Linked DNA regions of Homo sapiens: region 2 is reported to be linked to region 1. Evidence: microRNA targets listed by miRTarBase, many of them from high-throughput screens and not tested one by one. Region 1 holds a microRNA gene; the other region holds the end of a gene's coding sequence.

Region 1 (16,756 bases):
TAAAATTCTTCCTTGCTCCATCCATTCATCACTTCCTCTACTATTTTATCTAGAAGATAAATTAGTAGATTGAGGTGATGTTTATAGGAGTTTAAAGCACAGATAGACAACTAGATTGTCCTACCTACCCAGACTGTGCTTCTCACTCTCACTGTGCCCTTTCTTAATCTTTGGAAATGCTTTTATTTATATATAAAATAGGCTATAACTTCATATAGTTGTATTATGAAAAGTTAATGCACAGAAAAAGACTTGTGCTAGGTATATGGTTTCTTCTCAATTAAATGGAAGCCATTGCCTGTATTTGTCAATAGAATTCATCATACTTTGTCTCACATATTCAGTGCTTTACATCATTGTTGGCACATGGTATGTTTAGACTGCGCAAATCTCCTCCAAATCCCTCATAGCCACTGATCTCTTTACTGTCTCCATAGTTTTGCTTTCTCCAGAAGGTCATGTAGTTGAATCACACGGTATGTAGACTTTCAGACTGGCTTCTTTCACTCGGCAATATGCATTTAAAGGTTCCTGTGTGTCTTCTGTGGCTTGATAGAATAATATTCCATTGCCTGGATATACCACAGTTTATTTTTCCATTCACTTCCTGAAGGACATTTCGATTTTAGTGGTCATGAATAAGTCTCCTATAACATTCATGGGAAGAAGGTTTTTGTGTGCATGTAAGTTTTCAAATCCTTTAAGTAAATACCAGGGAATGTAATTGCTGGGTTGTGTGGTAATAGTATGTTTAAGTTTTGTAAGAAACTGCCAAACTGACTCCCAAAGTAGCTGTACCATTCTGCATTCTCACCAGCAATGAATAAAAGTTCCTGTTTCTCCTCACATTTGCCAGCATTTCATATTATCAGACTTTTGGATATTGGCCATTTTAATAGTCATGTAATAATATCTCACTGTTGTCGTGACTTGCAGTTCCCTAATGATATATGACTAGTAACTTTTCAATATCTGTATTTGACAGCTGTATTTAGACCTTTGGCCTATTTTTTAAATGAGTTGTTTTCTTTCTTATTTTCGAGTTCTTTGTATACTTTAAATACCACTAATTTATCTGGTATGTGTTTTGAAAAGATTTTCTCCCAACCTGTGGCTTTTCTTTTCATTCTAAGCACAGTTTGAATAACAAAAGTCTTTAATTTTAATGATGCTCAATTTCTCAATTTTTTCTTTAACCCAATAAATCAGAAAGCTGTTTATCATTTCACATGACTTAATATTCAGGCAAGGCCTATATAGGTCCCTTTCAAACAGTCATAAAGTTTAGAAGCTCTCACCTCACAAACAATAACAACAACAACATAGAAACAAAAATGACAGCTTTTGATGTTGTCTCCGTAATTTCTCAATTCAAGAACAGATTACTGAGCTTTACAAGCAATACATATAGATATCAATTTCCCAATAAAATACCTTATGATATTTATCAAATCACCTTAGCTTCGGTCTACTTATTGCTATTAGACTAAAATGTAATTTGTCAGACATGAGAAATCTTTTTGTAGTATTTTTTATAGAACCAAGTATTTATTTTAGCTTTTTCAGTTCTTCCCTTGCTGTTTCCCCAGTATGGTCATTCCAATTGTCTCTATAGATGTATTAATACCAGGTATATAATAAATACAATTATCACCCACGTGTACCCCAACCCCCTTCCCTGTTCATGCAGTCAGCATAAAGGAAGCAGGTCAAAAGGAAATCATGTACCCTCTGATATGCTAGGTTGTAAGGAAAGGTACAAAGTTAATTTACCATGTCTGAGTTTTCTTCTTCTCTTTATTTGTTCCTTTTAATGCATGTATGTTTTTATTTCTCAGGCCTCTCCAGTCCTACCACTCTCAAGGACACTTGATACAGGTATAAGGCTGTGTCTTCATCAGGTCCCTTTGTGTTACCCCCGGCCAGGGGTGGGAAATAGAAGAAGTGAATGTCTCTATCTTCACTATGTATCACACAGAGCAGAAATATAAAGAAGCCTGTGCGGTGAATGGGTCTCTTCTTTCTCCAAAAACCACCTACCCCTTCAACTCCCACTGCTTCAATGAAAATCTTGTATTAGTCTCCCCATTTCCCCCTCAAACTTGCTTTAACAAAGCAGTTCCTAAACCTCTGTTAATGCATGTCCCCACCCCTAACTCAAAACACAGTCTTATGTCACATCACAGAAAAGAAGTTCAAAACAAAACAAAATGAAACAAAGCCACAGTCTTACAAGAAAAATAGGTAAATTTTACAAAAGTTGTGTACTATATCTCTGCTTTGAATTTCATCATTGGCCAAGGATAGTAAAACTCTTGGAAAACTATAAAACAGGAACTTACTTAATATGTTTTACCCAAGATTTTTCAAACATTTTTGGAAGGATACTTATTAACATCTTGCAGAGGTAATGTTACATGAAAAACTTAGCATAAGACCAATCGGGTATTCTATGCAATAATGCAGATATATGAAAAATTAATATAATGAAATAAATGACTTTTCAAAAGGTATTGATCCTAGATCCACATTCTTTTTTTGGTTCAGGTGAGGCAATTAGAATGTCAAAAAATTAAAGAAGCATAGAACAACCGTCTAATAAGAGGGATGAATGCGCCTGGGTGGAAAGTTATTAGAAGATAAATTAGTAGATTGACCTTTTTGCCGTCTATGTAGTTTGTTTGTTTTTTGCTAGTACCAATAGAAAGAAATTCATTTCATGGTTTGTGTCACTGGAAATGTATAACTTAGTGGTAGCTATATAGCAAACTTTCAATATGTATGATAAGAGATTAGATGTAGGTTTAATATCATTATTTAATTTATTTGCTTGAATACCAGTGAGGAATTTCCACTTAAACTCTTGTTTTCAAGATGAGTGTTTAATTGAATTCCAGAATTCATTTTGAAATAGAACTTTGTGTAGGATATAAATTTCTTTGCAAGAAAAATCATTTGTACACTTGGGTTTGAGAGCAGTTTAATGTCGATATAACTTGTTTCCAGGCTTTCATTTCCTACTTTTTGGTATGGGAATAATCTCATGATGTGATTGTGAAAGTCTTAAAAGATACTGTCTGCAAAGATACTCTGTGCACTCAAAGTGTGCTCTATACACTTCACTGCCGTTCACCTTTTGGGTTTATGAGGCTTCCATTTGCTGGCAATTCGAATGTGACTCTGAGTTAGATGCTGTGGTATGGGAGATATGTTTATAGGAGTTTAAAGCACAGATAGACAACTAGATTGTCCTACCGACCCAGACTGTGCTTCTCACTCTCACTGTGCCCTTTCTTAACCTTTGGAAATGCTTATATATAAAATAGGCTATAACTTCATATAGTTGTATTATGAAAAGTTAATGCACAGAAAATGACTTGTGCTAGGTATGTGGTTTCTTCTCAATTAAATGGAAGCCATTGCCTGTATTTGTCAATAGAATTCATCATACTTTATCTCACATATTCAGTGACTTACATCACTGTTGGCACATGGTATGTTTAGACTGCACAAGGGTGAATTACGTCAAATTTATCTATCTACAGGAAAGAATATAGCCCAAGGTACCTTGTTTAGCTGAGCCAAAGTCTGCATTTATTAAAAATGTAAATTTTATCTTGAAATGATGCCTAATCTCACAGAACTATAGGTTCCAATCTCTAAGTCACTGTGATCAGTAGTACAACTATGTACTCTGTGTCCGTCCTACTAGCTATATTGCTGGGATCTGGAGCGTGACTTTTGTGTCTTTCTGTAATGCCTTACCTCTCATCAAAATTCACAAGACCTGCTCTCTGGATTGTGAGACTTATGCATTACAAATAAAAAGGTGCTGTCCTAATGGCATTCCAAAGCCATTTGAAATGAGTTGCTTTCGTTTCCAGGGAGTCATTTTTTATGTTGATTATCATTACTTTACCATTACCTTTTAATTTGGAAATGTTAAAATCCATTGCCATGTTCCTTGGAATATAAAGATCATATAGGGTCACTGAGATGAGTCTGGAAATATCAATCACTGGAGCCCTTCTAGTGGGATAATGTTGTTGCTAATATTGCTGGTATTCTATTCTTCACGTTTCCTCCAGTAAAATGTAAAGCGACCAAAATATAAGCGTCATGCAGGCAAGGGTTCTTTTATTTGTTCAATGAACACTGCCTTCACGTAGTAGTCAGTTAATATTCACTACTAGAATGCATGTTGAATGGCAGCTCCTTTATTTGCCATTAGCATTGGCCCACTTTATAGCAGTTGGACCAACAGTTGGACAAAGTGTGTTGATCTTTTATGACAAAATAGATATCTCTTTCTTTCTTTCATTGTTGCTTTTTCTGTGGGCAAGTTGATAGACATTGTAGTCCTGATGTTATTTAAGGGCATACAGTTGAAGTTATTAGATACTTTAGAGTTTATTTAATTATAATATGAAGCTTTGAGTTTCTGTTTCATTATTAAATAATTTATTTTATGATAGTGTTGCTTAACTTAGTGTGCAAGGCCTACAAATAAACCTAATAAATATCTTACAAACTACCTTAAAAGAAATCTAATGTTTTTCACTGAAGTATTTTTAAACATATTGAAGTTGGAATTCCAGGTAATTGTATACACACACACACACACACACAAAACACACACACACACACATACACACATTAGGTTTTCATTTGGTTTCTTTGTTCCTATTATTGAAATTACTATGCTAATAACCATATCAATTTATGAAACTCATTTTGAGAAAAATTGCCTAAAATATAACTCATTTTTAAAATTATTTTCTCTTAATTTATAATGTAATATTTTAATAAAATATGGTAGGGCAATTTTGTATAAATATTTATGCTAAGCTTTCTACATAAGTTACTGCATATAGTCTAGTTTTTAATAGAAGGTTTTTTTTTTACTTCAGTATCCACTTTAAAGTCATTGACATTTAGTGTTTTTTACTTTACAGTTCTAAGTTACTTATGCTTAAAAAGTCATCTGACTTTTAAGTTAATGTCCAACTTGATTGTTATCTCTCTATATCTTATTGATGTGTTCTTGAAAGTAGTTAGAATTTAAAAAACATTACTAAGAGGGTTTTTTATTTTTCATCTTTGGAAAGAAACTTGGGATAAATGGTTGTCTTTCATCTTTGTCCTCCTCTCTACTCACAACTCCCCGTTCCAGATCATTAGCTAAACTTGTGTGCTGAGGTTAATATTCTGTTTTACCTTTCTTGTCAAATTGCTAGATACAACTTTGTTCAGTTATATACTGTACAAACAGCATCTTAACTTTTTAATCTCTCTCTTTTTAACAAATGTGTTCACCCTCAGATTTGTTGTCATTTAGAAGAGGACTTCCTATTGGAAATATAATAATTTTTCTTCATGTGGAATCTTCAATACAAAAAAAAAAAACACGTATCAATGGTTTGCATGTGTCATGCTGATAGTTGGAGGGCAAATGATATTAGAAAAAGTAACACTATATTTCTGAACATAAACCTTGTTTCATCTTAGAATTTGGTGTTGAACCAATTTTGTACCTCATTGCTATAAACCTTATGTATCTAAAGAGTTGTTAATATGTGATTAACTGCCTTGGCCAAACTCAAAATCTTATTCACACATACAATACACACAGATAACTTATTTTTATTTGTTCGATCACTCCTTTAGTCCCTCATTTATTTCACAAACATTCATTGACACTTACGTGGCAGCACTCTTGTAAGAATAGAATATGGTGATGTCATGCTCTCCCTGGCCGTGTCCGAGCCGCGACGGGCGAGGGGCGGACATTCGTGGCGAATGGGACCCTTCTTCTCGTCCCGCCCGCGGGGGCCCCTTGTCTCTCCTCTTCCTCGCCTGCGGGTGGTGCGTTGGGAAGGCATGGGGTGCGGAACCCGGCCTGACCTCGCTGTCCCGCCCCCGCCTTCTGCCTCGCGGGGTGGGTCGGGGGGTCCTCTGACGCGGCAGGCACCCCTCGCTCTCGCCTCCTGTGGTTGTCGACTTGCGGGCGGCCCCCCTCCGCAGCGGTGGGGGTGCTGTCCCGCCGGCCCGTCGTGCTGCCCTCCCGGGGAGTTTGCGCGAGCGTTGGCTCCCCCTGGGCCTTTGCGGTGCTCCTGGAGCGCTCCGGGTTGTCCCTCAGGTTCCCGAGGCCGAGCGGTGGTGTGTCGTTCCCACCCCCAGCGCCCCCTCCTCCGGTCGGCGCCTCGGTGTCCGCGCGTGGGTCCTGAGGGAGCTCGTCGGTGTGGGGTTCGAGGCGGTTGAGTGAGACGAGACGCGCCCCTCCCACGCGGGGAAGGGCGCCCGCCTGGTCCGGCGAGCGCACGTCCGGTGCTCCCCTCTGGCGGGTGCGCACGGGCCCTGTGAGCGATCGCGGTGGGCTTGGGCTGGTGACGCGTGCGCCGGCCGGCCGCCGAGGGGCTACCGTTCTGCCTCCGACCGGTCGTGTGTGGGTTTACTCGGAGGTGCTTTGCCTCTGAAGAAAAGAGGCGGGTGGACGGGGTGGGGGGGGGGGTGGGAGGCGGGGGCTTGTGGAGTTGCGCTCACGCTCGCACCTGCCGGTCCCCGCCCTGACCGCGAACGCTCAAGGTTGCCGCACGCAGGTTTTTCCTGGTACCACAGGCCCCCTCCCTTCCCCAGGCCTCCCTGAGCGCCTCTGCGGGCCCCTCGGGCCCCACGAGGGGCGGCTGGCGGGTGGGGAGTGTGACCCATCCTCGGTGAGAAAGCCTTCTCTAGCGATCCAAGAGGTGTGCCTTGGGGTACGGGATCCCCCGGCCTGCCGCCTCTGTCTCTCTCTCCGTTATGGTAGCGCTGCAGTAGCGACTCGCTTGCAGAGGAACCCTCCTCAGCTTCCCCCTCGACGGGGTGACGGGGGGAGAGCGAGGGTTCCGCCGGCCACCGCGGTGGTGGCCGAGCGCGGCTCGTCGCCTACTGTGGCCGGCGCCTCCCCTTTCCGAGTAAGGGGAGGATCCCGCCGGCAGGGCCCAGCGTCCTAGCGGGTTGGGACGCGGCTGACAGCGAGCGATGGCTGCGCGCAGCGTTCCGTCCGGCGAGTGACCCCCCTCCGCCGCGAGTCAGCTCTCCGCCCGCTCCCTTGCCGAGTCGCGACCGGTGCGGACGACGGCGTTTGCGTGGCACGTGGTCGGGCCGCCTGGCCCTGGGAAAGCGTCCCACGGTGGGGGCGCGCCGGTCTCCCGGAGCGGGACCGGGTCGGAGGATGGACGAGAATCACGAGCGATGTGGCCCTGGCGTTGAGTTTGTGGCTGTGGTCGCTTCGGGGCCCCGGTGGCGGGACCAGGGGCTCGTGAGGCAGGTCTTGGTGGGTGCCGAGGGCCTTCCGGCGTCCCAGGCGGGGCGCCGCGGGACCGCCCTCGTGTCTGTGGCGGTGGGATCCCGCGGCCGTGTTTTCCTGGTGGCCCGGCCATGCCTGAGGTTTCTCCCTCAGCCGCCCCTCTGCGGGCTCCCAGGTGCCCTTGCCCTCGCGGTCCCCGGCCCTTGCCTGTCTGCGCCCCCTTCCCCGCCCGCCGCCCGCCGATCCTCTCTCCTCCCCGAGCGGCTCACCGGCTTTACGTCGGTTGGTGGCCGCGTCTGGGACCGAACCGGGCACCGCCTTGTGGAAAAAAAAGAATAGAATATACCCTGTTAAATCAGACATGATACTTGCTTTTGTGGAGCTTATGCTTTAGTGCAGAAACAGAAAGTCAAGCAAAAACTCAAACTATGTAACTTTAAATTGGATATGTGCTAATGAAGGAAAATGTGGCACTGTAAGAAAAAATAATAGGGAGTTAAAGGATAAATAGGAGTTTGCTGGATGAAATTTATGAAGAGCTGAAGATTTCAAACAAAAGAAACTGATGCAGGAGGGTGCAGCTTTGGAGTCAAGAATGAAGTTCTAGGAGATAGAGAGCAAAGAAATGGTGGGAGAGGAGGTCAAAGTAGGTAGGATTTTATATATTATCAATGGGAAAATATTGAACAATCCTAAGCAGAAAGGCAATGATATATGTTCATCTTCATTACAAATTCTTATATTTTTAGTAGACCTGTTTTCAGGCAAAACTTCATAAGAGAATAGTAACAAAGAGAAAAAAAGCAGTGGTCTCAAATTATCTCTAACTCACCTGATGACTTTAAGTTAAATGGCCTCAACATTTTGTGATGCTTTTCCTTCTTATAAAGTAAGGAGTTTAGATGAGGTGAGGTATCCAATTTCGTTTAGCTTCAATTTCCCGTAATTCGACTGCTGTCAAGTCATGCTTTGCTTTGTTCTGTTTGTGAGCCAGAGTAACTTTAAGGTAGTATATTAACTAGAATAACTATTTCTTTACTTTTAAACTTCAAAATTATGATGACATAAGAAGTGTTTCAAAGAACATTTAGAAAGTAGATAAATGAAAAATTTTTAACATTTTGGAATGCTTCTTTTATTTCTTTTTGAAACCTAGGTTTTTGGTGCTAGTGGTGATATTTATTTTTTGCCAAACTAACCATTCTATGTAATTTTGTAGCATTTTGGGTTGATGACCACCGTAAGTCTAGTATTCCCATATGTGTTAAAATTTATCTTTACAATTAATATATTTTCACTGAATTATTTAATTAAAAATTAAACTACAATTTCTAATACATGTTCAATGAGATATCATTAGGCATTACCTGAAAAGGATTTCTGGAGAAAGAAAGAATTTCTGGTTAAAAAAAGGTTGAACAGGTTTTCCTAGTGCAGTTCTCTCGGTCTCTAGGATGGAGCTACAGCATAAAGTAGCTTCCAAATTTACTTCACAAATTAGCCCTTAGATTTCAAGAATTACTTGTAATTTTTTTTTATAGAGCACAGTTTCTTTGCTCTTCAGTATTACACTTGCTTATGTGAGTTCCTAAAACTAAGTTTAATTTTGGAAATTCTTAATTTTATATTTACATTTTGAGTTGTGTTTAAATAAAAAATTAAGTTTAGTAAAAAGCTAGGTTTTTATTTCCACCTACAAATTCAGTGTCCCATCAATAGAAAAAAAATTCTCAATAATATTTTAAAGTTACTTACTTTAGTATTTGTCATTAAAGAATAAAATTTACCAGGCAGAAATGCCCCCAGAAGCTACCTATGGAGGAAATATAAATATTATTATTACCTACTAATATTAACATACAAACTAGTCAATTATGGTATAGCAGTTAAATATACATAAAAGTTAAATATTTATAAATGATACAGGACTCACATGTTTGTATGCCTGTTGTGCAGTCACAGTCTGATAAATTGATAAACAGAGTTTGCAGTAGAGAAAGAGTTTAATGATTGCAGGGCAGCTGAGTGAGGAGATGCGAGCACCCTCGAATCTGTCTTTCCAGAGAGTACTTGGCTGGGGTGAAGGGATTGTAGAGGACCAGGGGCTGGAAAATTGGGGTCACTGACTGGTTTGGTTAAGGGGGATTAAATCACCAGGATGTAGAAACTTTGCCCTTTAGTGAGTCGGCTTCTCCTGGAGCCCTTCGGAGCAGCTGATGTCAGTAGTTTCACTGGTATGTAGGATCTGAAAGAATACCTCAAAGAGAAAACTTAACATTTTACAATGCTCAAGTTGTTATCTATGAGTAGTTAAGTTTAACTATAATCTTGTGACAGGATATAAATGATTGTGGGGCCATACCTAGTGAACAATTATGAGGAAGCAGGACAGACAGCAAGTTAACTTAACGTTTAAGGCTGGATGTGCTGGAAGCTTATTTTTGTTTCATCTGCTCCCTCCTCTCCCAAATAATTTTATAAAGATTATAGGGGTTGTTTCATTATATATATATATATGTATATATATATATATATATATGTATATATATATATATGTAACTTCTAATATGTTATCAGTTAATAAAAGCTCAAATTTTCTAGACATTTTTGTTGATTAAGCTAATAAAGTGGCTTCTACCAATGGATCTTGAAATGTGGTATGCTAAATGAATTTCTGTTTTCAAAAATAATTGTGCATGATCAATAAATCACTAAAACATTGAGACAGTAGGCAAGTAAACTATATTTTTAAGTTTACTAGTGGTGCAATCTTGTGCAAGTCACGTGACACTTTATGCCTTAATTTCTAAAAGAAAAAAGAGAACTTCCTAAATTAGAGCTGGGTTCAAATATGAATTAGATATATAAATATGAAGATATTGGAAATATTAGAAATATGAATTTGAAGGTAACTGCCATAGTGTTAGTGACTAACATATAGTTAACTATCATTGACAAAATTATTATTATTTTCTTGTTTTTTATTGGGGGGGTTTCTTTTTTTTATTGTACTTTAAGTTTTAGGGTACATGTACACAACGTGCACGTTTGTTACAAATGTATACATGTGCCATGTTGGTGTGCTGCACCCATTAACTCATCATTTAGCATTAGGTATATCTCCTAATGCTATCCCTCCCCCCTCCACCCACCCCACAATAGTCCCCAGTGTGTGATGTTCCCGTTCCTGTGTCCATGTGTTCTCATTGTTCAATTCCCACCTATGAGTGAGAACATGCAGTGCTTGGTTTTTTTGTGCTTGCGATAGCTTGCTGAGAATGATGGTTTCCAGCTTCATCCATGTCCCTACAAAGGACATGAATTCATCATTTTGTATGGCTGCATAGTATTCCATGGTGTATATGTGCCACATTTTCTTAATCCAGTCTATCATTGGTGGACATTTGGGTTGGTTCCAAATCTTTGCTATTGTGAATAGTGCCACAATAAACATATGTGTGCATGTGTCTTTATAGCAGCATGATTTATAATCCTTTGGGTATATACCCAGTAATGGGATGGCTGGGTTAAATGGTATTTCCAGTTCTAGATCCCTGAGGAATCGCCACACTGACTTCCACAATGGTTGAAGTAGTTTACAGTCCCACCAACAGTGTAAAAGTGTTCCTATTTCTCCACATCCTCTCCAGCACCTGTTGTTTCCTGACTTTTTAATGATTGCCATTCTAACTGGTGTGAGATGGTATCTCATTGTGGTTTTGATTTGCATTTCTCTGATGGCCAGTGATGATGAGCATTTTTTCACGTGCTTTTTGGTTGCATAAATGTCTTCTTTTGAGAAGTGTCTGTTCATATCCTTCACCCACTTTTTGATGGGTTTTTTTTTCTTGTAAATTTGTTTGAGTTCATTGTAGATTCTGGATATTAGCCCTTTGTCAGATGAGTAGGTTGCAAAAATTTTCTCCCATTCTGTAGGTTGCCTGTTCACTCTGATGGTAGTTTCTTTTGCTGTGCAGAAGCTCTTTAGTTTAATTAGATCCCATTTGCCAATTTTGGCTTTTGTTGCCATTGCTTTTGGTGTTTTAGACATGAAGTCCTTGCCCATGCCTATGTCCTGAATGGTATTGCCTAGGTTTTCTTCTAGGGTTTTTATGGTTTTAGGTCTAACATGTAAGTCTTTAATCCATCTTGAATTAATTTTTGTATAAGGTGTAAGGAAGGGATCCAGTTTCAGCTTTCTACATATGGCTAGCCAGTTTTCCCAGCACCATTTATTAAATAGGGAATCCTTTCCCCATTTCTTCTTTTTGTCAGCAAATAAACTAGAAAATCTAGAAGAAATGGATAAATTCCTCGACACATACACTCTCCCAAGACTAAACCAGGAAGAAGTTGAATCTCTGAATAGACCAATAACAGGCTCTGAAATTGAGGCAATAATTAATAGCTTACCAACCAAAAAAAGTCCAGGACCAGATGGATTCACAGCCGAATTCTACCAGAGGTACAAGGAGGAGCTGGTACCATTCCTTCTGAAACTATTCCAATCAATAGAAAAAGAGGGAATCCTCCCTAACTCATTTTATGAGGCCAGCATCATCCTGATACCAAAGCGTGGCAGAGACACAACAAAAAAAAAGAGAATTTTAGACCAATATCCTTGATGAACATTGATGCAAAAATCCCCAACAAAATACTGGCAAACCGAATCCAGCAACACATCAAAAACTTATCCTCCATGATCAAGTGGGCTTCATCCCTGGGATGCAAGGCTGGTTCAACATACGAAAATCAATAAACGTAATCCAGTATATAAACAGAACCAATGACAAAAACCACATGATTATCTCAATAGATGCAGAAAAGGCCATTGACAAACTTCAACAATGCTTCATGCTAAAAACTCTCAATAAATTAGGTATTGATGGGACGTATCTCAAAATAATAAGAGCTATCTATGACAAACTCATAGCCAATATCATACTGAATGGACAAAAACTGGAAGCATTCCCTTTGAAAACTGGCACAAGACAAGGATGCCCTCTCTCACCACTCCTATTCAACATAGTGTTGGAAATTCTGGCCAGGGCAATCAGACAGGAAAAGGGAATAAAGGGCATTCAATTAGGAAAAGAGGAAGTCAAATTGTCCCTGTTTGCAGATGACATGATTGTATATCTAGAAAACCCCATCATCTCAGCCCTAAATCTCCTTAAGCTGATAAGGAACTTCAGCAAAGTCTCAGGATACAAAATCAATGTGCAAAAATCACAAGCACTCTTATATACCAATAACAGACAAACAGAGTGCCAAATCATGAGTGAACTCCCATTCACAATTGCTTCAAAGAGAATAAAATACCTAGGAATCCAACTTACAAGGGATGTGAAGAACCTCTTCAAGGAGAACTACAAACCACTGCTCAATGAAATAAAAGAGGATACAAGCAAATTAAAGAACATTCCATGCTCATGGGTAGGAAGAATCAATATGGTGAAAATGGCCATACTGCCCAAGGTAATTTATAGATTCAATGCCATCCCCATCAAGCTACCAATGACTCTCTTCACAGAATTGGAAAAAACTACTTTAAAGTTCATATGGAACCAAAAAAGAGCCCACATTGCCAAGTCAATCCTAAGCCAAATGAACAAAGCTGGAGGCATCATGCTACCTGACTTCAAACTATACTACAAGGCTACAGTAACCAAAACAGCATGGTACTGGTACCACAACAGAGATATAGACCAATGGAACAGAACAGAGCCCTCAAAAATAATGCTGCATATCTACAACTATCTGATATTTGACAAACCTGACAAAAAGAAGGAACGGGGAAAGGATTCTCTTTTCTTTTTTGAAATAATGGAGATATAGTAGAGAAGATTTTGTTAATTTGAGGTGTTTTAACTGTTTATTCAGTAAGTTCTTTGTAAAAATTTACAGGAAGAACTGAAGGGATACAAAAGGTTCATAATAAACACAGCAGATGATTTCTGATCCTTAAATCCAGAAACTGGGCCCTAATCTATTTTGCTCTCTTATTTCTAGCAAACTACCTAGAAAAAGTTGGAGAATGGCACTATTTTTTTGTTGATCTGAGCTTCAGTTTTTCATTAGTAGTAGTAATTCAAGCTAGAACATATTGTATATTCAAAATTACACCAAGTGATTTACTTTAATATAAGTTATTTCATTTAACCTTAGGAATACTTCATGGATATATTTATTTTTACAGATTAAGAGATTGTTATTAGCAGAGGTTGAGTAACTTGCCCAACTCTGATACATTGCTAAGGAGTAATTGACCTCTAATTGAGTCACGTTTCTTCTAACTACTATGCTCCACTGTAAATAAATGAGATTACAGGTTAAAGTTTGATAATTACTTCTAAGTAATAAATAGCACACTCAATTTTAATATCGATTCTGGTAAAATTCTTTATAAAGGGTTTAGCATTCTTTACAATGTTTGGGGTTGGGTCAGGGAGAAGATAATGAAAAGAGAACAGAGCAGATAAGAAACATTTTGCACATCTTGACTTCCAAACTGATCCTCTAAATAGATTTTTATGCTATCTCATCACACTGAAACTTTTTGATGGATATAGAAACAAAAAATATTGTATTAAAAATATTGAGAAAGATTGGGGAGAAAGATAGAAAATTGTTTTCAAGAGAATCAAAGTATATTATTTAAGGTATATTTCTCTGTGAATCTTGAAACTAGGGAAAGAAATATGTCAGCAAAAATACTGGAAGTAATTTATTCTTTCATTGACACAAAAACAATGATTGAATGATTAATATGTAGCAATCACTAATCTAGGATGCTCTTGCTCTGACTTATATTCCCTTCCCAAATATTCCAATGATTTTGTATTAATAAAAGAAGACATTAAAGTAGTATATTGATATTCTTATATATTGATATATACAAGAATATACATTCTAAGTATGTATGTTTTGAAATTTTGTGGTGATCTGATGAGTGACTTTGAGTCTCAAATTTAGAGTTTCTAATAATTCTGGATTAAACAAAATGTGAAGGGAGTTAATCTTGAAAGCAAAAGAAAAATAACTCATCCATACAAGGAAATGACTTTATGATTAACACCTGACTTTTCATCAGAAACAATGGTAGTCAGAACACAATGGGATAGCACATCCAAAGTGCTGAAAGAAAAAATAAGTGTTTTGTTCTGTTTATCTTACCAAAGTGGTAATGTGTGTAGGATTTATATGTAAAGGGAAAAAACTTTAAGAGGAATTAGACATAGTCAATGGAAAGAATATGACCAATAATGTGTTCTAGGTCTGGCTTGGTTAGATATAACATGTTTAACTTTGGATAATTCATGAATCCTTTGCAAATCTTTCTTTGCCTCCGATATATCTCGGCTGGAGTCAACACTAAAAACTTGAACTCCATATATTGTGTATATCTGTTATTTCAAGTTAGTATATTTTATGTTTCCTTCTTGATGGAAGCTTGTCTTATTTTGTTCTCTACAGTCTGTATTTTTTTCTTTTCATAATTCTGTAGCAATCGTGTTCCAAATATAAAAATAATTCTTTTGTGCTGTGTGAAAATATGTGTTCTTTTATTTAAGCTTCCAGACGAATGTGTTATTTCAAGTGGGAGACTATGATTTTTCTCTAAAGATGATGGGTAGGGTTTTGTTGTTGTTGTTGCCGTTTGTTTGTTTGTCTAACTTTACTAGTAGGTAGATTATTTGAATGACTGATCTCATTAACCATCTCTCCTGCTAAGTCTGTCTCCTTTTCCTTCTAAATCTATCTCCTTTCCTTCAAGTCTTTCATCTGAGTGACATTAGAAATTCTCAATACAACTGGTATTGTGCCCAGCTAAATCCATCTGATTTTTACTTTTAAAAATGGCAAGTTGATGTAACATTTCATTATACTATATACAAGAGAAAAATCAGAGCAAAATGTAATTGACAGTTTTCTGAGTTTCTTTAGTCTTAAGTTTTGAAATTGTTTTTATCTATTTTTATTTATTTATTTATTTTTTACAGACAGGGTCTCACTCTGTCACCCAGGGTGGAGTGCAGTGGTGCAATTATGGCTCACTGTAGTCTTGATCTCCTGGGCTCAAGCAGTCCTCCCAACTCAGCTCCCAAGTAGCTAGAACTACAGGTGTGTGCTTTATAATAAAACACATTATTATAAAAACACCCAGCTTTATTTTTTATTAAAGAAAAAAATTTGTAGACATTGGCTTTCATTATGTTGCTCTGGCTGGTCTTGAACTTCCAGCCTCAAGTGATCCTCCCACCTTTGCCTCCCAAAGTGCTGGGATTAAAAGTGTGAACCACCTCATGTAACTTTTTTTTTTTAATTATCATTATAATACTTGATAAAATAAAATAAACAAACTAAAACAAACATCTGAAAATGATGCTAACGTAGTTGGGTGCTGGCTTTAAAAAGTCCATTATGTCTTTTGTCAATTATATTAGTTTTCTAAGGTGGCACTTAAACACATGCACACACACACAGACTGGGTGGCTTAAACAACCGATATTTATTTTCCCACAGTTCTAGAGGCTGTAAATCCAAGGTCAAAGTGCTCCTCTGAGGACCATGATGGAAGGATCTGTTCTAGGCCTCTCTTCTTGGCTTATAGATGGTTGCCTTCTCACAGCTCTATCTTCACACAGTTGTACTTCTGTGCATACATGTAGCTGATTTTTACCCCTTTCTAAATTTTATTTTATATGGACACCATTTTTTTGGATTAGGACCCACCCCGAGGGCCTCATTTTAAATGAATTCTTATTTAAAACATCCCAATATGGTTACTTTCAGAAATACTAGGCTTTAGAATTTCACCATATGAATTTTGGGAGAGAGGAGCACAGTTCAGCCCATAACTAACACACGGTAAGTAACTATTGACCAGGTTACTCATGTTACTCAAAAGAGATAATTCACTTTGTTAATATGAAGCAATTTTTTTCCTCAGTAGGTGTAAGAGTGTGTGTCAAACAGAAGTAGCATTTTAACATATAAGAGACATAGCTGAGCTCTAAATATAGGAGACAGTATGATAATGTTTTACATTTCAAATTCTCTGCCTGCATTAGAATATTTTTGCAGAATGTGTAAAACAATCTAATGAATTGATTGGGATGTGCAGGAACAAGAAATATGGTTGTGATTTTTGCATAAAGCTTTTATATAGTTCCTTTAAAAATATAATTATCTCATTTACCTATTTCCTTAAGGCAATGGGTATATTTTGTTTTATTATTTTTGATCCCGATTTTTCTGACTATGGTTCACAAAAAACCATAAGATAAAGTACCATCCTGTACCTTATCTTCATGCAACAGTTTTTTTTTCTGCTAAATTAATATTTTGTATATTTTTATTTTGTATATATTTGGTATAATTCTGTTAATATTTTATATATTTCATATATTTGTATATGAAATGCGGATGCTTTAGACAACATGAAAATATCTTTGAACATTCATA
Region 2 (13,858 bases), not on the chromosome of region 1:
CCCCTCTGGTGGCCCCTTCCCAAAGACAGAAACACCCTAGGTCTTCACCAGGGGCAGTGGGGGAGCCATTGGTGCCTTGGCTTTCTCCTGCCTGAATGAGGAGGGGTTTGGGGCACAGAAGACCTCATCACGAGCCCCTACTATCCAACCCCTAGCTCCTCCGGAAGCGCCACATTGGCAACGACATTGTGACCATCGTGTTCCAGGAGCCTGGCAGCAAGCCCTTCTGCCCCACCACCATCCGCTCGCACTTCCAGCACGTGTTCCTAGTGGTGCGGGCACACACACCCTGCACGCCACACACCACCTACAGGTGGGCACCGGAGTGGTCCCAGGTCTCCCGTGGGCATGGAGTCCTGCCGCCCCTCACTAACGCCTCCCTCCCCGCAGGGTGGCCGTGAGCCGCACCCAGGACACCCCTGCCTTCGGGCCAGCTCTGCCTGCTGGCGGAGGCCCCTTCGCAGCCAACGCCGACTTCCGGGCCTTCCTGCTGGCCAAAGCGCTGAATGGTGAGCAGGCGGCCGGCCACGCGCGCCAGTTCCACGCCATGGCCACGCGCACCCGCCAGCAGTACCTGCAAGACCTGGCCACCAACGAGGTGACCACTACGTCGCTGGACTCGGCTTCACGCTTCGGCCTGCCCTCCCTGGGTGGGAGGCGCCGGGCGGCCCCTCGGGGCCCAGGCGCCGAGCTGCAGGCAGCGGGCTCACTGGTGTGGGGAGTGCGCGCGGCGCCCGGGGCGCGGGTCGCCGCCGGGGCTCAGGCGAGCGGCCCCGAAGGCATCGAGGTGCCCTGCCTGCTGGGCATCTCGGCCGAGGCTCTGGTGCTGGTGGCGCCGCGCGACGGCCGCGTAGTGTTCAATTGCGCCTGTCGCGACGTGCTGGCCTGGACCTTCTCCGAGCAGCAGCTGGACCTGTACCACGGCCGCGGGGAGGCGATCACGCTGCGCTTCGACGGGTCCCCCGGCCAAGCCGTGGGCGAGGTGGTGGCGCGCCTGCAGGTGAGCTGGAGTGGTAAACTGGGGCCCCTGCGCGCGGCGGGGCGGAGCCTGCTTTGGACCCCTCCCTCCCGCCGCCTTTGTCCCCTACTCCTGCGGAAGGGAAAGTCGAGGAGGGCAGAGCCAGCCCCGGGGCTTGGCAAGGCCGGAACTGGTGCCCTCGGGTAAGCGACTTCTGGTCTTCATCCCTCGGGCGGTGGCACACGCGGCCCTCGGGGACTGTGGAAAGTTCCGTGTGGCCTGGGACGCAGTCCAGGGGGCGGGCGCTGGGGCGGCCCCACCTCCCGGCAGCCCCGCCCACTCGTCCCGCCCCGTCCGCAGCTGGTGAGCCGTGGCTGCGAGACCCGCGAGCTGGCGCTGCCCCGCGACGGTCAAGGCCGCCTGGGCTTCGAGGTGGACGCCGAGGGATTCGTCACGCACGTGGAGCGCTTCACATTCGCCGAGACGGCGGGGCTGCGGCCCGGGGCGCGCCTCCTGCGCGTGTGCGGCCAGACTCTGCCCAGCCTCCGGCCCGAGGCCGCTGCCCAGCTCCTGCGCTCGGCGCCCAAGGTCTGCGTCACCGTCCTGCCCCCCGACGAGAGCGGCCGGCCCCGCAGGTCAGGGTGCCGGGGACGCGGGGAGGTGGGAGGGCCGGCAGTTGGCCACCGCGCAGTCTGCGCCTCCCGGGTCGCCATCAGCAGTTTCAGGAACCCAGTGTGGATACCTTTCCTTCTGGAAAGAATCTCCCGTCTCTTAGCCCGTCTGAGCCTGTCTCTTCCTGTCTCTGTCTCTCTCTCTTTCTCTGTCCTTCCTTCCTCTCTCTCTCCTCTCTCTTTTTTTTTTTTTTGAGACGAAGTATCCCTCTTGTTGCCCGGGCTGGAGTGCAATGGCGTGATTTCGGCTTACTGCAACATCCGCCTCCCAGGTTCAAGCAGTTCTCCTGCCTCAGCCTCCCTTGTAGCTGGGATTACAGGCATGCACCACCACGGCCGGTTAATTTTTTCTATTTTTAGTAGAGATGGGGTTTCACCAAGTTGGCCAGGCTGGTCTCGAACTCCTGACCTCAGGTGATCCACCTGCCTCGCCCTCCCAAAGTTCTGGGATTACAGGCGTGAGTCACCGCGCCCTGAACCTCTATCTTCATATGTAGAATGGGACCAGTTAAGCGCGTTGCTCCCACTGCTTAAAAGATCAAATAGCAGCCCCCACTATCTTTTTTTTTAAGTATTGGCACCCGCCCACCCAACACACACACTACACACTATTGATAACTTCCTGTGCTAAGCCAGGGGTAGGCAAACATTTTCTGTAAATGGCCAAATAATAAATATTTTAGGCTTTCTGGACCATCTGGTCTCTGCCGCAGCTACTCTGTCGTAGGTAAATGAATAAATAAATGTGCCTGTGTCTCGCTAAAACTTTATAGACACTGAAATTTGGATTTTACATGATTTTAACTTATCATGAAATATTCTTTTGATTTTTCCACTAGTTAAAAATGTAAAATCCGGACCGGGCGCGGTGGCTCATGCTTGTAATCCCAGCACTTTGGGAGGCTGAGGCGGGTAGCTCACCTGAGGTCAGGAGTTCGAGACCAGCCTGGCCAACATGCTGAAACCCGTCTCTAGTAAAAATACAAAAATTAGCCAGGTGTGATGGCAGGCATCTGTAATCCCAGCTACTTGGGAGGCTGAGGCAGGAAAATCACTTGAACCCAGGAGGTGGAGGAGGTTGCCATGAGCTGTGATCGCGCCATTGCACTCCAGCCTGGGCAACAAGAGCAAAACTCCATCTCAAAAAAAAAAAAAAGTAAAATCCATGCTTAGCTCGCAGTACAGAAACTGGCACATCTGCTTTAGAAAAGAAAAGGAAAAGGCACAGGCTGGATTTGGCTACAGACAGTAGTTTTGGGATTTAAGCAATTTACACGTGTTATTTAAATCCTCACAGCACACTATGAGGTTCGTACTATTATCCCCATTTCACAGATGGAGAAATTGATGTTCAGAGTGATTTGCTTGGGATATACAGGGGCAGCACTGGAATTTGAACCATGGTCTGGAAAAATGGCCAGTAACCAGGCAGACATTTTTCACTGTTGTCAGGATGCCGGGGAGCTCTCCTGCTCCTGGAAGTGAGCCTGGCGGGCTGGGGGTGGGGCTAGTGATGCAGGACGCTGGGGACTGGAGAAGTCCTGCCTGACCCTGTCCCACCCCACAGGAGTTTTTCGGAGCTGTACACGCTGTCGCTGCAGGAGCCTAGCCGGCGGGGGGCCCCAGATCCTGTGCAGGATGAGGTCCAGGGGGTGACCCTGCTGCCCACCACAAAGCAGCTGCTGCACCTGTGCCTGCAAGATGGTGGCAGTCCTCCAGGGCCTGGGGATCTGGCCGAGGAGAGGACTGAGTTCCTGCACAGCCAGAACTCGCTGTCACCACGCAGGTGCACACTCTTGGCCTTCCCTCTCCTCCAGGCCTCTGGGAAAGCGGCTTCCCTTTCTGAGCCACCCCTGCTCTCCCCAGCTCTCTGTCGGATGAGGCCCCAGTCCTGCCCAACACCACCCCGGACCTCCTCCTGGCCACCACAGCCAAGCCATCAGTACCCAGTGCTGACAGTGAGACACCCCTGACCCAGGTGAGCAGAAACCAGGCTCTGGAGCCCAACAGCACAGTGGTGACAGTGGGCATCACTGAATCTGTATCCACTTCTGTGGCACAGGACAGGCCAGGCAGTCCCAGTGGCTCTGAGGACAAGGGCAACCCGGCGCCGGAGCTGAGGGCCTCCTTTCTGCCACGTACCTTGTCTCTGCGGAACTCCATCAGCAGGAGTGAGTCTGGACCCAGGAGAGCAGGGGAGGGGTTGGGGGGTGCTCCTGGGCTTCCCTAGCTCAGCCTGCTCCTTGTGCCCACAGTCATGTCGGAGGCGGGCAGTGGGACCCTGGAGGACGAGTGGCAGGCCATCTCGGAGATTGCCTCTACTTGCAACACCATTCTGGAGTCGCTGTCCCGAGAGGGTGAGGCCACCAGGGTGCTGCGGTAAGCCTGGGCAGTGCTCTTGCCCCCTTTCTGACCTGCCCACCTGATCCCTTTGTCCCCACAGGACAGCCCATCCCAGAGAGTGGAGACCCTAAGGGAACTCCAAAATCTGATGCTGAGTAAGCTCCCCAACTCCCCACAGCCGCTTTACCTGCCCACATGACCCCCCCTTCGTGCCTGTCTGCTGGGGTGGAGCTCTGTCCTGGGCTCTGCTGCCACATATGCCTAGAAGACCAGCGGGGCCCCTCTCATTAGCTGGGGCTGGGAGTCAGCTGGTGCACTGCCCCCTGCCTTGGTCCTGCTGAGTCTTGACCCCCATGTCTTCAGGCCAGAGCCTGGGAACCTCTCAGAGAAGGTCTCTCACTTGGAGTCCATGCTCAGGAAGCTGCAGGAGGACCTGCAGAAGGTGAGGGGTGGGCTGAGCTTGGGGGGAGTCACAGGGCTGCCCCAGGAAAGGGGCTGGCGGCTCTGACTCCTGTCTCCCCGGCACCCCAGGAGAAGGCGGACAGGGCGGCCCTGGAGGAGGAGGTGCGGAGCCTGAGACACAACAACCGGCGGCTGCAGGCGGAGTCTGAGAGTGCAGCCACACGCCTCCTCCTGGCCTCCAAGCAGCTGGGCTCACCCACCGCCGACCTGGCCTGAGCCGTCTGGAACCACCTGGGCCCCTGAGGGCACTGTGGTCACACTGGGCCCTCCTCAGGAACTCTCCCTGCGCAGAGGCGTGTCTTAGCACTGCCCCCCTCCCTAGCCCCTTATTTGGTGGCGGAAGTGGCCTCCACCCCTTCCCTGTTTGTAAATATTCTGTGGAGAAAAGAGGACTTCAGGGAGTAAAAAAGCCACTGATGTCTGTGTCTGAACATGTGTCCAAGACAGGGCAGGGCAAGGGGTTTTGCCTCCAGAGGCCCCAGCCAAACTCCTCGGACCAGTCAGGACAGGCCCTGGGAACACTGGCTCAGAGATGGGCTGGCACTCACTGAGGGGTCCCTGAGGCCAGGCCACTGCTTGGCTTCTCTCCCATAACGTTTATTTGGTTCTGCAGGGAAGCAGGTGGCCACACCCCACAGCTACCCTGGCCGTGCATCACAAGGCCCTGTGCCTCAGTGCAGGCCTCACTCTTCTCTCTGAAGCCACTGAGCCCCCAGGCCTTGTCCTCTCTCTACCCACCTGGCCACTTCTTGCAGGGCCCAATTCCAGAGGCGGTGGCATCTCCGCCTCAGTTGACTGGGGCTGTTTCTATGTCCTGGAGGAAACGGGCCCTTGACCCACTTCCCTCCTCACCAGCCTATGGTCCTCTCTGTTCCTCGCGAGGCCAGGCCTTTCCCCGAAGTGGCATCATCAAGTCCAAACTTGGGACTTTGTCTAAATCCTTTGGTTTCTGGACCTGAGGCCCAGATAGGGCAGACTTGCCCAGCATCTCATGCCTATTCCAGTCCCTTCCCTAGGCTGGCTGAAGCTCCATGGTGAGACCTAGGCCCTGGGTCTGTTAACTTAGGTGCTGGCAGGATGAGCTAGGCTCGGAGAAACAGAGCATCTGAGGATCAGGAAGGCTTCATGGAGGAGGTAATATGAGGGCTGAGTTTTGAAGGCTGGGTAGGAGTTCACCAGGCAGAGACGTCAGAGGTATCCTGGTAGGACCAGTCTGGCTGAGGCCTGCTGGACTAGAGCCAAGGCACACCCAGGAACCCAGCGTCAAAGAAGCCAGATCAGAAAGGGTTGTGAAGGTGCACTAGGGATCCTGGGTTAGCAGTTCCCAAGACTGCCACTTTTTCCTGGTTGTGGACTAGTGTGGAAGGCTGTGGTCACTGAGGGTGTGTCTGCAGAAAACTCGGATCTGGTCTTGTGGTTGATGTTTGAAGGGAGATTGATGGGGTGAGATCTGGATGTCAGAGCTCTTTGGCTGCAGGGAGGCGGCTGTAGCCGCAGTCCAGTGGGAGGTCTAGTGGTGACTTAAACTCAGTGATAGCAGTGACAGTGGGGAGAAGTGGGCAGATTTTCCAGGACCTCGTGGAAGGACTGGACGCAAGTTACTAAGGGAAGAGGCGGCATCTACGGTAGTGGCCAGGTTTCCGGCTGGAGCCCTTGGAAGGTGGCAGGGCCAGGGCTGACAGGGAAAAGGAGAGGCAGGCTGGGGATGGCTGAGGTCATTTGGAACAGGATGAGTTTGAGAGGCCCGAGGACGTCAGAGTGGAGATGTCCAGGGGCTGGTGCGCAGGGGAGAGAGATCTGGGTTGGATACGAGGACTTGGAGCTGCTGAGCCATGAGCATGATGGGGTCATTCACGAATGAGAGAAGAACCAGGAGAGGTCTTCGTGGGTCACGGGAGGTCGCGGGACCGAGAAAGCCAAGAGGAGGGAGGCGCAGCCTGGGCTGCAGGGCCTTGGCTCCCTGGTTTCCCTCTGGGCCTCGGGTCGCGGACCTCCGGTCGGGGTCCCTGCGCAGCTCAGCCGTCGGCTTCCTCAGCGTTAGGAGCCTTCTCACCCCGCCCGCTTCCTCCCCGACCCCGCCTCCCAGGCGCTCCCCGGCAGCTTCGCCCGGGTCCTGACCTGGCCACCGCGAGCCCGGGCTCCGCCCCTCGCGTGGGAGTTCCGCCGAGGCCCGCCCTCGCTCCAAGCCCCGCCCCTGGCCGCCCCCCCGGAGCCGGAGCCCCGTGGAAAACGCCACTTCCTCGACGGAATTGGCCTGCCGTCTCGCCGGCGCCGCCCGTCGGAGCCTGCACCCAGGGCCTTTTCTGTTCCTAGGAGACTCGCTGAATTTTGGGACGCGTCCCGCTGACGATAACTCCTTTTCCCCTGCTATTGTCCTCCCGCGACGGTGCGAAGCCCAAACGAAGACGCCATCGGCCTCGGCGGGGATTTTCCCCAGACGCTGGACCCGGCCTCCGGTTGCTGCGGGCTCCTTGTGCGCCTGCGCAGTCGAGAAGGGGGCCCACGCCGGCCAGCGCTTTTTGCTGCTGCGCTTGCGCTGGGGCAAAGCGGAAGTACGTCCAGCTGTAGCCCTTGTGGGCTGCGGCTGGGCCTTTGTTTTGGCTTCCTGAGGCTGTGGATTGAAGATTTCACCGTTCCTCCCAGAACAGAGTATCAAAGCATCGGTGGGCCGGGTAGATCTTTACCTGGCACCACACATTCCCCAAGAGAAGCACACACTCCCTGGGCCACCCAAGGAATTTGGCCCCATCACATCTTTCGAACATCGTTTCTCTTACCTCTGACGCTGGCTAGTCCCTCTTTGACATCCACTCTCAGCTGATCTAAGACCTGGAGCTAATGGGGCCTCTTGGAAGACTCCTGAAACTGCTCCATCCCCACAGCCAGCGGGCTCTACTAGGCTCTCAGTGTGCTAGGACTCTTGCCTTAGCTGCCCGTTTTCATCCACTGGACGGTAACTCGGGGTTTCCAAGGGCATTCTCAGACTGCAAGCTCTCAGAGGACAGTGCACGCATTCACCCAGCTCTCTACCACCAATGTCTGGCCTGATGTGACTAGCAAAATGTGTGCTCAGTGTTTGCTGAAAAAAAGCGGATCTCTAGCCAGCTTGGCAACAGATTTATTAGTTCAGAGTAGAAAGAGCAAGAGTCCAAGTGCTTTGATTGTTCAGTAAAAACTATGCCTCCTGACTGGAGAGCTGCCAGCCTGCTCTCCCCCACTCTTAACAACTTACCCTACTATTAAGGCACTTGAGAAGAGGGAGAGCAAGGAAGTCCCAGACCAAACCCCTTCTGGATCCTGGAGAGAGCCAGTGCTGTTGCACTGGTTTCCTTCAGCCATGGTTGAGCAAGGAAAGAGCCGGCAGAGACCTCTGTAGGGCAGGAAGGCCAGCCCCTCAAACGCTGGTGTTAGGCACAGGGACAATGCCAGTGCCATACAGGGGCTGGTATCTGGGGCGTTATTTTGATTAAGCTGTAATGAATCCATGATGGAAGACACTTGATAAGGCTTTGTGGGCTCAAAGGCCTTACCTCCAGCCTGCTTCTGTCTCTAGGAGAGTACCAGAAGCTGGAGGATGGGGATGGGGGACCCCAGAGTTCCCTACAGAGAAGGGAGCTGACCATCAGGACAGGGGAAAAGTTTGAGTTTCCCCAGCTCCCCCCTTTCCAGAGAAGTTAATGCTTCTGCTTAAGCACCTCCAAAAAGAGAGAGAGATACAGATACTGACAATAAAAGAATAAAATATGGCTCCCCCCTCCAAGGAAGACATCCACAAAGTTGGGGGCAGTTGGAACACACCCCACCAGAATCCGTAAGTGCTTTTGGAGGGCTTCAATCCCCTGCAACCCAGTGCTCTGGGGAGGGCAGGCGTCACCCCCTTAGGAGCTGATCTGACTCAGCAGGGCTGAGAAGTCCATGTCCGCAATGGAGGAGAAGTCTTCATCTCCTGAAAGGAGGCCATTGGGGAGCCCCGGGGCCCCCAGTGGAGCAGGAGCTGGGTCGGGGGGCCTCTGGGCCCCTGTCACTAGGCGAGTTATAGCCTCAGGGTACTCCATCAGCATGGGCTCAGTTGTGTGGGGGGCCACAGGTATGCCCTGGTTCAGCAGCTGCTGAAACTCGGAGTTGTCGACGGATGCCAGGTCTGTGAACACAGCTGGGTCTGTGCTGTTGCCAAGCAAGGCCCCCAGGTCTTCATCATCAAACTGCAGCTGCAGCAGGGCCTCTGACAGCGTTCCTTCCCCAGCCTGGGTGGGCTTGGGGGCAGGTGGGGCCACAGCCTGAGGAGGGCCTGGGGCTAGGACTGGGACAGGGGCTGGGGCCTGGGCCAGAGCTGATACCATGGCTGGAGCAGGGGCAGGGGCTGGAGCCTGGGGCAGGACTTGGGGAGGGGCCGGGGCCAAGGCCGAGGCCTGGCTGATCTGCCCAGAAGGAAACACCATGGTGGGAAACTCATCATAGTTGATGGTGCTCAGGGATGACGTAAAGGGATAGGGCTGGGGTGCTGGAGGAGAGAGACAGAGAGGCAGGGGTCAGAGAAAGCCCTAGAGATCCACCCCGTCCTCTGTACCCCAGCCCCTCTTCATGGTGCTCAGGCTCAATCCCTCTCTAGGGAGTCACTGCCAACACCCTATCTCCTTCCTCTTACCCCATCTGACCCAGCCTGTAGGGTCCAGTTCTAGCCACACCTCCACCTTGGAGTCCTCCCTGACTACTCAAGCCCACGAAACTCTTCCAGCCTTTTAGAGGAAGGGACACTTGGAGAGATAAGCTGGACTCCTCAGTTTACAGCTGAAAAACTAAGTCCTGAGAGGCAATGAGCCCATGGAGCACCAAGTGAGCAGCGGCCTGAAGTGCAGAGCTTGTCAGTTTTTGAGCCTCGCACAGGCACACACATCTTGCTAATTTAGAGGTGATTTTTGTTCCCCCAATTCAAGTGAGAGATGAGAGCAGAGATTCTGCATTTTTAACTTCTGATTCCCAAGATACCCAATATAGAATTTAAGTGGCACGGTGGTTCCCAGGCTTCAGTGTGCATTAGCATCCCAGGAAGTCGCTGGTTCCTGCGCCATCCTTTCAAAGCCTCTGATTCAGTAGGTCTGTAATGGGGCCCAGGAGTCTTCATCTCCACTGCTCCTCAGCTGAACAGAGCTGAACCTGTCGTTCCAGTGGGACAAAAGGAAATCCTTACCTGGCTTGGGGACAGAAGCTGAGCTGCGGGAAGGCACAGCAATGCGTCGAGGTGGAGGCCGGGGGTCGGTGGGTCCTGTAGGGCAAGGGCTAGGTCAGTTCTCAGCCCCAGGGTGTCCCCTCCCTGCCCGCTGCCTTCCTCTCTGGCTTTCCCAGTCCCCATCTCACCGCTGAAAGGACTCTTCTTCATGATGCTCTTGAAGGTCTCATATGTCCTTTTACGTTTCTCCTCAATCCGGTGACGATCGTCTGGGAAAGTAAGGGGGAGAAGTGGGACTTGCTCTCCTCAGGTGGGTCCCCGACGCTCTCAAAGGTCCCTCAGGAGGAAGGGGAGGAGCCAGGCTTTCCCAAGACCCATTCTCCCAACCTTCTCTGCCAATGAGAAGGGATGTGTGACACTCAGCAGTTCTGAGAATCCCACAGCTTTTGGAGGCCTCTGTTGGCTGAATCTGCCCCTCTAAGACCACATGGTGAGGCCGAGTACAGGGGCCATGCTCTGGGCAAAGAGGAGACCTGGGGGGCCCCAGCCTCCAGCTCACACCTTCCTGCACTGCTCACATCCTGGCTCATTGTCAGCCTCCACCCAGGCCTGGCGAGAATTTCTTGGCACTCTGGGGCAGCTGAGGCACAACTGCCTTAAGACTTCAGCAGAGACTCTTATTCTTATCTCTAATGGTTTCATATTTTAGTCAGAGCTTTCAGAACTGTCTTTCTAATTACAGTGGTATTTCAGTAGCTCCAAAGCACTTCAATTCCATCAATTCAAAGACAACCTCATCATCCCTCAAAAACTAGGTTCTTTCTCCTGCATTCCCTGACCATCCGCCATCTGCCCTGTCACCAAAGCTAGAAACCTTGGAATGATTATCTTCTTTTCTCTCACTCCCCGCCAGTAACTTGACATATATTTATCAAGCACCTACTATGTGCCAGCCTCCCTTCTAGACACTGGGGATGTGGCCGTGAGTATGCACACAAGGTGTCTGCTCCCAAAAAGTTGGCATCCTAGTGAAAAAGTGAGAGGGACACAATCATATATACAAACCAGAAAATCTCGGCCAGGCGTGGTGGCTCACGCCTGTAATCCCAGCACTTTGGGAGGTCGAGGCGGGTGGATCACGAGGTCAAGAGATCGAGACCACCCTGGCCAACATGGTGAAAACCCCGTCTCTACTAAAAATACAAAAAATTAGCCGGATGTGGTGGCGGGCGCCTGTAGTCCCAGCTACTCGGGAGGCTGAGGCAGGGAGAATCACTTGAACCCGGGAGGTGGAGGTTGCAGTGAGCCGAGATTGCACCACTGCACTCCAGCCTGGGCGACAAGAGTGAGACTCTGTCTCAAACAAACAAACAAAACCAAACCAGAAAATCTCAAGTGACGGTGGTCCAGGGACGATATGGTGATGTAACAATACTGGAAGTGAGGTCAGGACAGTCTAAATGTAGAGGGAAGGGCTAATTTAGAGGTCAGGGAAGGACTGGCATGAGCCACTTGCATTAAAACCTTGGGCATTCCAAGCAGAGGCAACAGCTAGACACAGGTCCTGAGGTGAGACTGAGCTTGGTCTGTAAGACGCAAAACGGCTGCAGGGCTGAAGGGTAACTGAGGACAGTGGTGGAGATGTGATCTTGCTCTGCTATTCCTTCTGTAAGGTTTGTGCCGCATCTTCTCTTCCTGGACTACAGCAACATTTCCAGAATGGCCTCCCTGCTTTGAGTCTGTCTGTCTCTGATCTTCTACACGTGGCCTCCTGAGTCAACTTCCAAATCTGCTCCTGTCACCTCTCTGCTTAGAGGCCTTCAGCTTAACCAGGCCCTCCAATCTCTGAGCCTGCTCACTGCCCAACATCAGCTCAAACCACGAAGGTGGCCCTGAATAGGCCGTGCAGTTGCCAACACCCCTTCCCTTCCAGGTGCTGGGCCACCTGCCTGGAGAACACACTTCTGTGTCTTTCTCCAGCTTCAATGCCACCTTCTCCATGCAGCTGTCTCCAGCTCCCCGGAGGCCACTGTGCCCCCGTGCTTCTCTGCGCACACCTCCATTTCACATGTCATTCCGTGACTTAAGGATCTGTTTTGCACATTTGTCTTCCTCAAGTGACTGAGACTCTGAAGGGCAGGGAGCATGTCTTACTCATTTTTTGTATTCACAATACCTGGCACAGGCCCTGGTACCAAGTGGACACTCAAACCTCGACCAAAATGTGGCTGGGCTGTATGGTAGTGACAAGACAACCAGTGTGGCAAAAGGATCCTGAAGCCAGATGGCCTGGGTTCCAACGCTGACTCTGCTAGACTCTGCTACTTACTAGCCACGTGAACCCAGGCAAGTTGGACACTATCTCCTACTTCAAAAGGGTCATGAGATTAAAATCAGGTAATCCAGTGAAGTGCCTGGAATAGGGGCAGATGTGTAGTACTAGCTCAATGTCTGAGGTATCATTATTATTAAATGAGGCAAGAAATGGATTCCAGTTTCTTGGATCCCAAGCTCTGACTCCAGCTTCTGGCCCTCAACCACAGCCCCAGACATGCAGTCTTGGCCTCTCTCTCACGGCACAGAGCCCAGCTGCCCTGATGCTGCCACCCCAGCTGTGTACCTGTATCTGGCAGGTACTGGAATTCCATGGGCTCACTGAGCTCCCGGTCGGAAGGCCGCCGCAGCTGCATGGAGACACGCACAGGAGCCTGCAGGCTGGGGTCTGCGTAGGGAGGGGTCCGGAACACAATGGCCACTTGTCGGTGCACATCAGCTTGCGAAAAGGAGCCTCGGGCCTCCCAGCCTGGTCCCGTGAAATACACCTCAATGTCCTCTGCAGGAGATGCGGTGGCAGTGTGGGTCAGTGTGTCTAACCCTCCATGGTCTCCCCCTCAACTTCTGATGCTTGTCTTCTGATACATCACCCTTCGGCCCACCTGAGGCCCCCGAGGCACAGGAGGAAGTATCCAAAGCCAGTTACCTGACACTCCACTTCTCTGCTCAGCTTCACCCCTTGCTCCCAAGAGCCCACCCCTGCCTCCTGATGTATACCTTTCTGCACCTTGTCACACAGTAGGAAGATCTCATCCCCACCGAGGCAGCTGCCAGAGTTTCGGTTCACTCGGCAGATCTTGAGCTCGGCAGTGTTGGGGGCACCTGAGGCAGTGAAAACAAGGGAGGATGACCTGAGCCACGAGAGGTCCCCAGGGTGGCCTGCAGGAGATGCAACTTCCCTGCCCAGCCCAGAGTCAAGGTTGCCCAGAGCTTGCCACCTACACCTTTGTAGCCAAAGTCAGACCTTCTTATTAGCTCCTCACCCCAACCGATTCAACAAGTATTTGCCTACTGTGCACTCAACACTGATCTAAGCAAGAATACGACCACACACAAAACCCAAACCTCTCTGCTCTCCCGGAGCTTATAGTCCAGTGGGTGCCAATCTGATCACACTCTTTCTCCACCTGACCAAAGCAATCTTTAAGGCCAGTCCATACCCACCTTGGCAATGAGCCCTTCCCTCCTGACCCCCAGTTTATCCTGGTTTCCCATCCTTGGGGCTCCAGATTCGTTTTATTTCCATTCATCCTGCTGGTTACTTAACTAAAGACTGCAGCTGATCAGTCAGCCCAATTCATCTGTGGGCTTCCATCACTGAATCATCATTCTCGAACACTATCTTGTTCCTGGGAGTTCATTTCCTAGAGTCATTATCGCAGTTGTGGGCACACCACCTTCTCATCACACAATACTGAAAATGCCCATCTCCCATCAGACTCTCTGCTAGACTTCCTGCCAGGCCAGAGCTACACCTCAAGGACAGCTCTGGGTCTTCTTTGCCCTCTCTCCCCAGCCAACAAAGAGCTGGGCAGAGAAGAGTAGACAAATACGCAAGATGATTGAATGAAGCCAGAGCGCCTCTTGCAGGCCACACTCACCCCAACCCCCTTCCTCCTATTCAGGCCCACCCTCTCCCCTTCCTGCGTCTCCCTCGCTACTCACGATTGTCAAAGATGGGATGAGAAAGGACAGGCGGCAGGCGGAGGGGCCTGCCTGATGGGTCCCGCACTGTCACCTGGAAGCAGAGCCGCACAGCATTCAGGTCGTAGTCCCCACGCTGCTCTTCTATAGGAACTGCCAAGAAAACAGGCGATCAGGAGAGCAGGGGAAGTGGGGATATAGGTGCTATCAGTGGGGGCAGGGAGCTCTGCGCTGGGAGGGCCGCTGGTGCGTGTGTGAAACACAAGTCCTAGAGGAGGC

The links. Region 1 holds the annotated microRNA hsa-miR-663a (AGGCGGGGCGCCGCGGGACCGC, at 7,344-7,365, shown strand). A microRNA usually pairs through its seed, bases 2 to 8, with sites in the 3' UTR of a target mRNA and lowers its output. Matches are read on the target gene's strand: a 7mer-m8 pairs with bases 2 to 8, a 7mer-A1 pairs with bases 2 to 7 and ends in A, and an 8mer does both.
Region 2: miRTarBase lists SIPA1 as a target of hsa-miR-663a. The part of its 3' UTR that is shown has no 7-base or 8-base seed match.

The regions. Positions count from the first base shown.
Region 1 is chr20:26,198,852-26,215,607 of GRCh38, reverse strand. MIR663A (microRNA 663a) reads left to right here and starts at 7,330; the gene lies at 7,330-7,422. It overlaps MIR663AHG (MIR663A host gene), which reads left to right and starts at 6,375. Exons shown (of 5, transcript NR_040095.1): 1 at 6,375-6,485; 2 at 16,085-16,159. RefSeq lists enhancers at 5,912-6,472, 7,356-7,857.
Region 2 is chr11:65,646,066-65,659,923 of GRCh38, forward strand. SIPA1 (signal-induced proliferation-associated 1) reads left to right here. Exons shown (of 16, transcript NM_006747.4): 7 at 156-313; 8 at 391-1,000; 9 at 1,319-1,593; 10 at 3,197-3,415; 11 at 3,496-3,607; 12 at 3,692-3,800; 13 at 3,885-3,986; 14 at 4,073-4,127; 15 at 4,336-4,414; 16 at 4,504-4,847. The coding sequence ends at 4,650. RELA (RELA proto-oncogene, NF-kB subunit) reads right to left here. Exons shown (of 11, transcript NM_021975.4): 6 at 13,601-13,732; 7 at 12,653-12,757; 8 at 12,222-12,434; 9 at 9,790-9,870; 10 at 9,623-9,697; 11 at 7,536-8,935. The coding sequence ends at 8,313. It overlaps MIR4489 (microRNA 4489), which reads left to right and starts at 3,127; the gene lies at 3,127-3,188. RefSeq lists a silencer at 6,436-6,675 and enhancers at 6,736-7,215, 7,226-7,275, 8,016-8,516.